2 linked regions of the Homo sapiens genome follow. The protein of the gene in region 2 purifies or fractionates together with the protein of the main gene of each other region. This does not show direct contact. Each region holds a gene or a part of one and is shown on either strand. Other genes may lie near its edges.

Region 1 (3,917 bases), on a different chromosome or scaffold from region 2:
CTCAAGCATCGCTCAGCTTGTTGGCTCCCAATCTCTACTTTTTGGAGCGCGAAAGTCAAGAAAATGGGATAGGACTCTTCCCAGTTCAGGATCGCATTCTTCCTTCAGCCCTGAAGCAGACCATACTCCATAAATAACTTCTAGGGCGCACAGAAAGCTTTTCAAAGTCAACCAAACAAGCCAGATAGCCGAGACAGCACCGCCCACGTAACCTGCCCCGTTGGGCTCAGTCTTACTTTGGGTGGGGCACTGTTCTCCGGGTCGCCGGTGTGTGTAGGCCCGCTTGCTGACAGACAGGCAGAGTTGGGTTTTCGAACCTCAAATAAATTTAAGGGCTTCTTTGTTTGAAGGGCTGGGGCAGGGACATAAATGAGGGGCGTTCCCTAAAATTAACATTAAAGACTCCAGGGTTTTTTGTTAACCAGCGCCTCCAGCCGCGGCTCTTCTCTCCTCTCTTTTGCCCTCCCCTTAAGTCCTGGGGCCCAGTTTTACCAGAGGAAGAGGGTACGCGCGGAAGAGGGCAGGGCACCCCTCCCCACGCCCAGCCCCGGCCCTTACCTGGTAGCCAGCTACCTCGGCACTGTGCCGCTCCTCCAGCTCCAGGATCTGCCTCTCCAAGGACTCGTTGGCCCCGCGCAGGCCCTCGATCTCGATGGTGCGCGCCTGCAGCTGGCGCCGATACTCGTGGATCTCCTCGCGGCTGGCCCGGATGGCCTCGGTGCTGCGCGCCGCCTGCTCGTTCAGGTTGGCAAACTTGGACTTGTACCATTCTTCCGCGGACTGCAGGTTCTTAGCGGCCAGGGACTCATACTGGGCGCGGATCTCCCTCAGAGCCGAGGTCAGGTCTGGTTTAGCCACAGTCACGTCCACCTCGGCCGCGGCCTGCGACGACGCCTGCAGCGTGGCCAGCAGCTCGGCTACCTCCTCGTCGTGCACCTGGCGTACGAAGGCCAGCTCGTCCAGCAGCGACTCCACCTTCTTCTCCAGGTCCAGGCGGGCCAGCGTGGCGCCGTCCACGTCGCGCTGCTGCGCCTTCAGGGCGCGCTCGGCGCCTTCGCGTCCGCGGCTCTCCTCCTCGCAGCGCGCCCGCAGCCGCTGCACCTCCTCCGCCAGCCCGTCGCGCTCCAGCAGGGCCTGCGAGCGAGCCGAGCTGGCCTCCTCCAGCTGCGCGCGCAGGTCGCGCAGCTCGCGCTGGAAGAGCTCGCCGACGCGCGACGGCTCAGCGTGGCGCTGTCGCAGCGCGGCCAGCTCGGCCTCCAACGCGCGGTTCTGCGTCTCCAGCTGATGCACCTTCTCGATGAACACGGCGAAGCGGTCGTTGAGGCCCTGCAGCTGCTCCTTCTCGTTGGTGCGGATGATCTTGTACTCGTTGGTGCGCGCCGCCGCCTGGCTCAGGTCCAGCCCGTCGGACGCCGGCGGCCGGCGATAGGCCAGGCCGAGGCCGAGCGACGAGGCCGAGGAGCAGGCGGCCGAGGAGGCCACATTGCTGCGGGACAGCGACTGCGAGCGGAAGCCGCCCGCGCCGCCGGCCCCAGAGAGGCGGGCGGACAGGCGAGAGCCATCCCCGAACACCTTGCGGTAGGAGGAGGAGGAGCACAGGTAGTGCTCCGAGCCGAAGCTCATGGTGCCGGGATCGGGGCCGGACGTGCGGCTTCAACGCGAGCTACAGAAGAAAGGAGAGGTGCGGCAGGCAGGGCGCGGCGGGGCGGTGCGCCCGGCTTTTAAGGCGCCGGGGCTGGGGCGGCGCGCTGGGGGCGGAGCTCCTGCTCAGAGTCTGGCCGGGAGAGGGAAGGGGGGCATCCAGGAGTGGGGGCGGGGAGGCGCAGTGACTACCGCAGCTGCGCGCGCGACGACCTGGGGCGCCGGGACAGGGCCATCTGCATCGGAGTCGCCCCTTTCCGCAGCGCTTCTCCCCAAGAATCGACTGCTTCGGAAGTGACTCGAGCGGAGGGGTGCCTAAACGACTGAGGTTTCCCATCCGGAAACCACACAGCTCTGTCGCATCCCTTGACCCTATCCCCTCTTCTTTAACCGACTGGGAGGTTAGGGGTTTCTGGGAGGTGTCCCCTACACCCACCCTCATCCTGAGGTGAGGCGCACAGAAAGCCTTCCCGAGGGCGAGGTCGTGTTTTTCCAGTTACAGTGAGGACCTGCAGAGCGAGCCCTTGTCCCCTTCCTCAGGGTCCCCAAGGAGAAAGGTGGGAGATGCTACGTCAGAAAGCATCTCTCCAGCTGCCCCTCTGCAGCTCCTGGGGAGGCTCCGGGCGGAAAGATGTTCAGCAAGTGCCTCTCCCAGAAGAGAGGGGAGATCAGTAAAGAAAGTGACCCCGAGCTGCGGAGAGTGGGGAGAAGCGGCGGTACAGAGGGGAAAAGAGGCCAGACTTGGAGAAGCAGGAGGCGCTGGGAATTGCTGGGGCTCATCGTTAGGGCACTAAAGCATGGCACAGGCCAGGACCACAAGCTGCTGGAAAGGGGGCTGCAGACTTTTGTGTTTAGAGCATTATATTTTAAAATATTTCGAAAGGAGCATTTTTAAACCAGGAGATTTCACCTGTAAAGAAATTGGATTTCTGGCTTCTTCTGAAAATGGGAAGAGCTGGGATGCCCACAGTGGCAGAGGTGAGTTGCCCTTGCCATTTGTATAAGAAGTGTGCTCTCCTGTTCACTACAGTCCCTGCCATTCTCCACTGAATTACGCCCCCCTTCTTAATTCATTTACTTTACCTCTCTGACCCTGTGGGCATTTGAGATTTCAGTTTGTGTAAATCCAGCAGGGCAGGTTCTCAACTGGCTTCAGAGAGCCACTCCCTGTGCAGATCTCTTTTTGGAGAAAAGAGATCCCTGCAAAAAGATTAAACTCCAGGAGTGGGGGAGAGTGCTGGTGACTGAGCCGGCCTCTTCTGCCACATGGTAGGGTTGGTGGGGCAGGGGGTGAGAATCAAAGAATGGAATCTGAAAAGATGAAGGCTGGGAGGGGTCAGTGTGGCGTCTGTAATATGTACCCACTTGCAAGCTTCTAATATCATTCAGGATGTGGATATGGCTTTGGAGAGGGAGTAGGAAGACCTTTTTAGTTATATCCCAGAATTCCAGACTGAGGGCCTTTTATTGATATTGGAATCTTCAAGGACGTAGTTCTAGGATAAGTTTTACTTCATGGGGAAAGGGGAATATGCTTGGGACAGGCCACTAAAGGAAGGGTGAAAAGGGATCTTATGGGACTTTGGAGCATATCTCTTGGCTTTGTGCTTGATGTCATGGAAGATGGTCAGGCCCTGCCACAGCCTGCCCCTCTGGTTCCTCATCACAGACCAAAGCCTTGAGTTGGAGGGACTCAATTCTGAGGTCTTTGGGCTTAGAAAGACCTGGTAAGGTGAACAATAAAAGATTGCTAACACTGCTGAGTAATGATTGTCTGCCAGTACTTGTGCTGGCACTTTTGCATAGGTTTACCTCTGAACCATGCTTCAAGGTGGCCCTCACCTCCATCTTATAGATAAGGCACCGAGGTGCGGGTGCAGCACAAGGTCACCAGCAAGCAAAGACAAGCATACATTCTCTCTTCACTACATAATTCTGCTTAGTGCAGTGAGACTCTTTTTTTTTTTTTTTTTTTTCTGAGACGGAGTTGGCCGGGTGCAGTGGCTCACACCTGTAATCCCAGCACTTTGGGAGGCCGAGATGGGCGGATCACTTGAGGTGAGGAGTTTGAGACCAGCCTGACCAACATGGTGAAACCCTGTCTCTATTAAAAATATAAAAATGAGCCGGGTGTGGTGGCACGGGCCTGTAATCCCAGCTCCTCAGGAGGCTGAGGCAGGAGAATTGCTTGAACTCGGGAGGTGGAGGTTTTAGTGAGCCGAAATCATGCGACTGCACTCCAGCCTGGGTGACAGAGCGAGACTCCATCAAAAAAA
Region 2 (3,917 bases):
GTGACAGTTCTTTTTTAAAAAGATAAAATGATGTAAAACTAAATTTTTGTTTTCATGTCAACTGTAACAAAAAGCAGAGAAACTACAAAACACTACATATTTTATTTGCCAAGAAAATGTGACTATAACATGAAATAAAATCACCACAAGATAAAATTTCTTAATTTTATTATCAAATAGTTTTTAATGCCAAAACATTTAAATCCATAGTTTGGTATATTTGTTGTAACAATTGGTAACGATAAAATAACATTAGTACCAAAGTACCTGAAAAATGAGTTATGTAAATTTACAACATTTTTTTTTTACAAATTACTAATCTACGGGTTGTGAATTTATAATCAATATTAAAATTCAAAACACTAGCATACATATTAAAAACTGATTTGTAATAGTGATGAGGAAAACAGTTGTTACATAAAAACTGTATTAAAAAAGAAAACAAAATAAAATGACTATTTGGTGAAAAACAGTTTATAAAACGATTGCCTTATAACAGTACTAATCTCACTGGCAGGTAATATCTTAAAAATTCAGATATTTTTAAGATATTAAAAATTCAGATAATCTTACTGGCAGGTAATATCTTAAAAATTCAGAACAGAGAAAGGTTCTTTTATACCCAGAGAACTACATATACAAATCACATCTTTTTTTTTTAAGTTTTCAAAATGAGATATTATTATACATGATAAATACTAAAAATGTCAAAATAAGATATAGCGCAGAGAAGTTAAAATCTTTTAGTGAAGATCAAAAGCAAAAATGTAGAAAAAAATCCTAGAATACTGATTAAGATGAAGACTAAGACAACAAATACACAGTGAATTCTGGGATTTGTGACAGCCACGCCAAGTCACCCCTCAGTATCAATGGACAATGGTTTGATCCTCCCACAGATACCCGAATCCACAGATGCTCAAGTCTCTGATATAAAATGGTGTAGTACTTGCATATAACCGACACACAGCACACCCCATACATCAAATCATATCTAGATTACTTGTAATACCTAATGAATGTAAACAATATGTAAATAGCTGATACACTGTATTGTTTTATGGAACAGTGACAAGAAAAGAAAGTCTGTACATGTTCAGTATGAATGCAAATTTTTTTTCCAAATATTTTTGATCCAAGGTTGGTTGACTCCACAGATCCCCCAATCTGGAGGGTTGACGATACAGTGAAATTCACTGACACAGATTTTCCTTTTCTGATTTCTGTGACACAATTAGGTGAACAGGGTATGAAACCTCCTTTTGGCAGTGCGTTTCCACAGCTTCCCCATCATTCAAAGACACATTTCCTATGCACATACTGGAGGCACAGAACAAAAACCCAGTACAACAGAACTACTCAGAGCCTGCAACTTCACTCCAGGGAAAAACCCTTTACAGTAAGATACTTTATCAGTTTTCTTAAGAGCGGGAGGCTTGTGGTGAACATATAATCATCTGAAAGGTGTTAATGCTCAAATCAGTTGTATGGGTGGAAGGAAATTTTCCAAAAAAGGAAAAAAAATAAAGATGGGGATGAGTTATGCTGGGTGAAAGAAGTCAGTCAAAGGTATACAGGATTCCACCTATGTGACATTCTAGAAAAGGCAAAACTATAGGGAGAGAGAACAGATTAGTGGTTGCCAGAGGTTAGTGGGGAGGGGGGGGTGTGACTACAGGGAGATTTTTGGGGGTGGATGGAACAGCTTTGTATCCTGATTGTGGTGAGGGCTGCACAAATTTATACGAGTTAAAATTCATAGAACTGTACCATCCTCCAAAAGAAGTCAATTTTACAGAATAATAATTTTAAAAACAAGTATACATTTTTTTTAAAGATGGAGAGGCTAACAAACTTTGCAACCTTTCCAGGTAAGGATTCATGAGACCTGAGCAGCCAGCCAGCCCTGAAATGGTTGGAACAGGAGAAAGAAGAAGAGCTCGACAGATACCCTGCCTGGGCTGGCAGCCCAGCTGCACCACACGCTGGCCAGCTGACAGCGGGCACATCCCTTCATCACCCAGTGCCTTTCTTCCCTCTTGTGAAAATGGAGATATGCTGAGAAGGTTACCTCAGCTCATCCAGGGAAAGCTTCTTCAGCTAACTAGGCTGTAGAAAGGGCCTACAGTCTAGTTAAATTTCCAAAAACAAGTTAATGCCAGAATATAAACTCCATGAAGTAACAGATTGTGTCTGTTTCATTCCTGCATGTATCCCTCATGCCTAGACAGTGTCTGGCACACAGTACGTGCTCAACATTGACTGAATGTGAGGGAAAAACCTATGCAGTTCTATACCATGTAGACAGGATCATAAATGATCACTATTTAAATTGTGTGTGCTGCTTTCCTTGACAAGAGTAACCAAGAGTCAGCTCCTTCAAGCTGATAGGAAACCCTGCTTCCTGGAAATGAGTATATCGAAGAGATATCTGCACTTCCATGTTTGCTGCAGCTCTGTTCACAACATCCAAGATGAGAAAGCAACCCAACTGTCCATGAACAGATGAATGGATAAAGAAAGTATGGTACTTACACACAATGGAATGCTATTCAGCCATAAAAAAGAATGAGATTATGTCATTTTCAACAACATGGATGGTCATTATGTTTAGTGAAATAAGTCAGGCACAGAAAGACAAACATCACATGTTCTCACTCACTTGTGGGACCTAAAAATAGATACAACTGAATCATGGAAATAAAGAGTAGAAGGATGGTTACCAGAGGCTAGGTAGGGTAGCAGGGTGGCATGGGGGAGGTGGGGATGGTTAATGGCTACAAAAAAACAGGAAGATTGAGTAAGACCTACTATTCGATAGCACAACAGGGTGACTACAGTCAATAATAATTTAATTGTAGATTTTAAAATAACCAGAAGAGTATAATTGGATTGTTTGTAACAGAAAGGATAAATGCTTGAGGGGATGGATACCCCATTTTCCCTGATGTAATTACTATGCATTGCATGCCTCTATCAAAACATCTCATGTACCTCATGAATATATACATGTACCCACAAAAATTAAAAATAAAAAAAAAAGAAAATTTTGCTATCTCAGCAATGGATTTCCTAGTTGCTGAAGAGATCTAGGTATACACTTCTATTTCAAATTTAAAATGTTAAAAAAAAAAAGTCTTTACAATCATTTTGATGTCAAAACTTGGTTTTTAATTAAAAAAAAAAAAGCATTCCTGAAAAGGTTTATTAAAACTGGTTTTCACACCTCTTATGAAAAAGAAGTGGCTCACACTTATAATCCCAGCACTTTGGGAGGCCGAGGCAGGAGGTTCACTTGGGGCTAGGAGTTCAAGATCAGCCCGGGCAACACAGGGAGACCCTGTCTCTATTAAAAAAAAAAAAAAAAGAAAAAGGGGAATTTTGTTGTAAATGTACACATAAAGTGTTCTTAGAATTTTGGGAGACACTTTCATAAATGAAGAATCTCTGTCAAATGAATATATATGTAAATATATATTACCCAAATATAGCAAATATTTGCTATATTAGTATTCATTCATTATATATTACATGTATATTTTATTAAACATACGTATTAAAGTACAAGTTCTAAATATCACCTTTTCCTATAATATTTTCCCATTCCTAATGACATATTTCATCATAAAAAATTATACCCAATGGATCTCAGTTTCAGACATTTTTAACTTTATAATCTAATATTAATAGTAAACAACAAAGGATAAATTTCACTTAAATTTTAACAAGTTGAAAGAGAGGTAGCTTCAAGTCTGAGGTAAAGCACCTTACCAAGTCGGCCACTCTGCATAAGGAATCCGAGAGCTCATCGAAGATCAGCACGGTCTGGGGCCCAGGTGGGGTGGAACATGCACGGTCCACAAGCAATTCTGTCTTTCTCAAGGCTTTTTCTTGTGCAATATGAAATCCTTCTGGGG

Evidence for each region.
Region 1: the proteins of MIPEP (region 2) and INA purify together in Homo sapiens (affinity purification with mass spectrometry; 2 studies listed by BioGRID and IntAct, with this or other methods). This does not show direct contact.

The regions. Positions count from the first base shown.
Region 1 is NC_000010.11:103,274,918-103,278,834, reverse strand, and holds the start of INA (alpha-internexin), read right to left. Parts: upstream 1,698-3,917; 5' UTR 1,624-1,697; coding exon 559-1,623; intron 1-558. UniProt on the Homo sapiens protein: Class-IV neuronal intermediate filament that is able to self-assemble. It is involved in the morphogenesis of neurons.
Region 2 is NC_000013.11:23,882,562-23,886,478, forward strand, and holds part of MIPEP (mitochondrial intermediate peptidase), read right to left. Parts: coding exon 3,772-3,917; intron 1-3,771. UniProt on the Homo sapiens protein: Cleaves proteins, imported into the mitochondrion, to their mature size.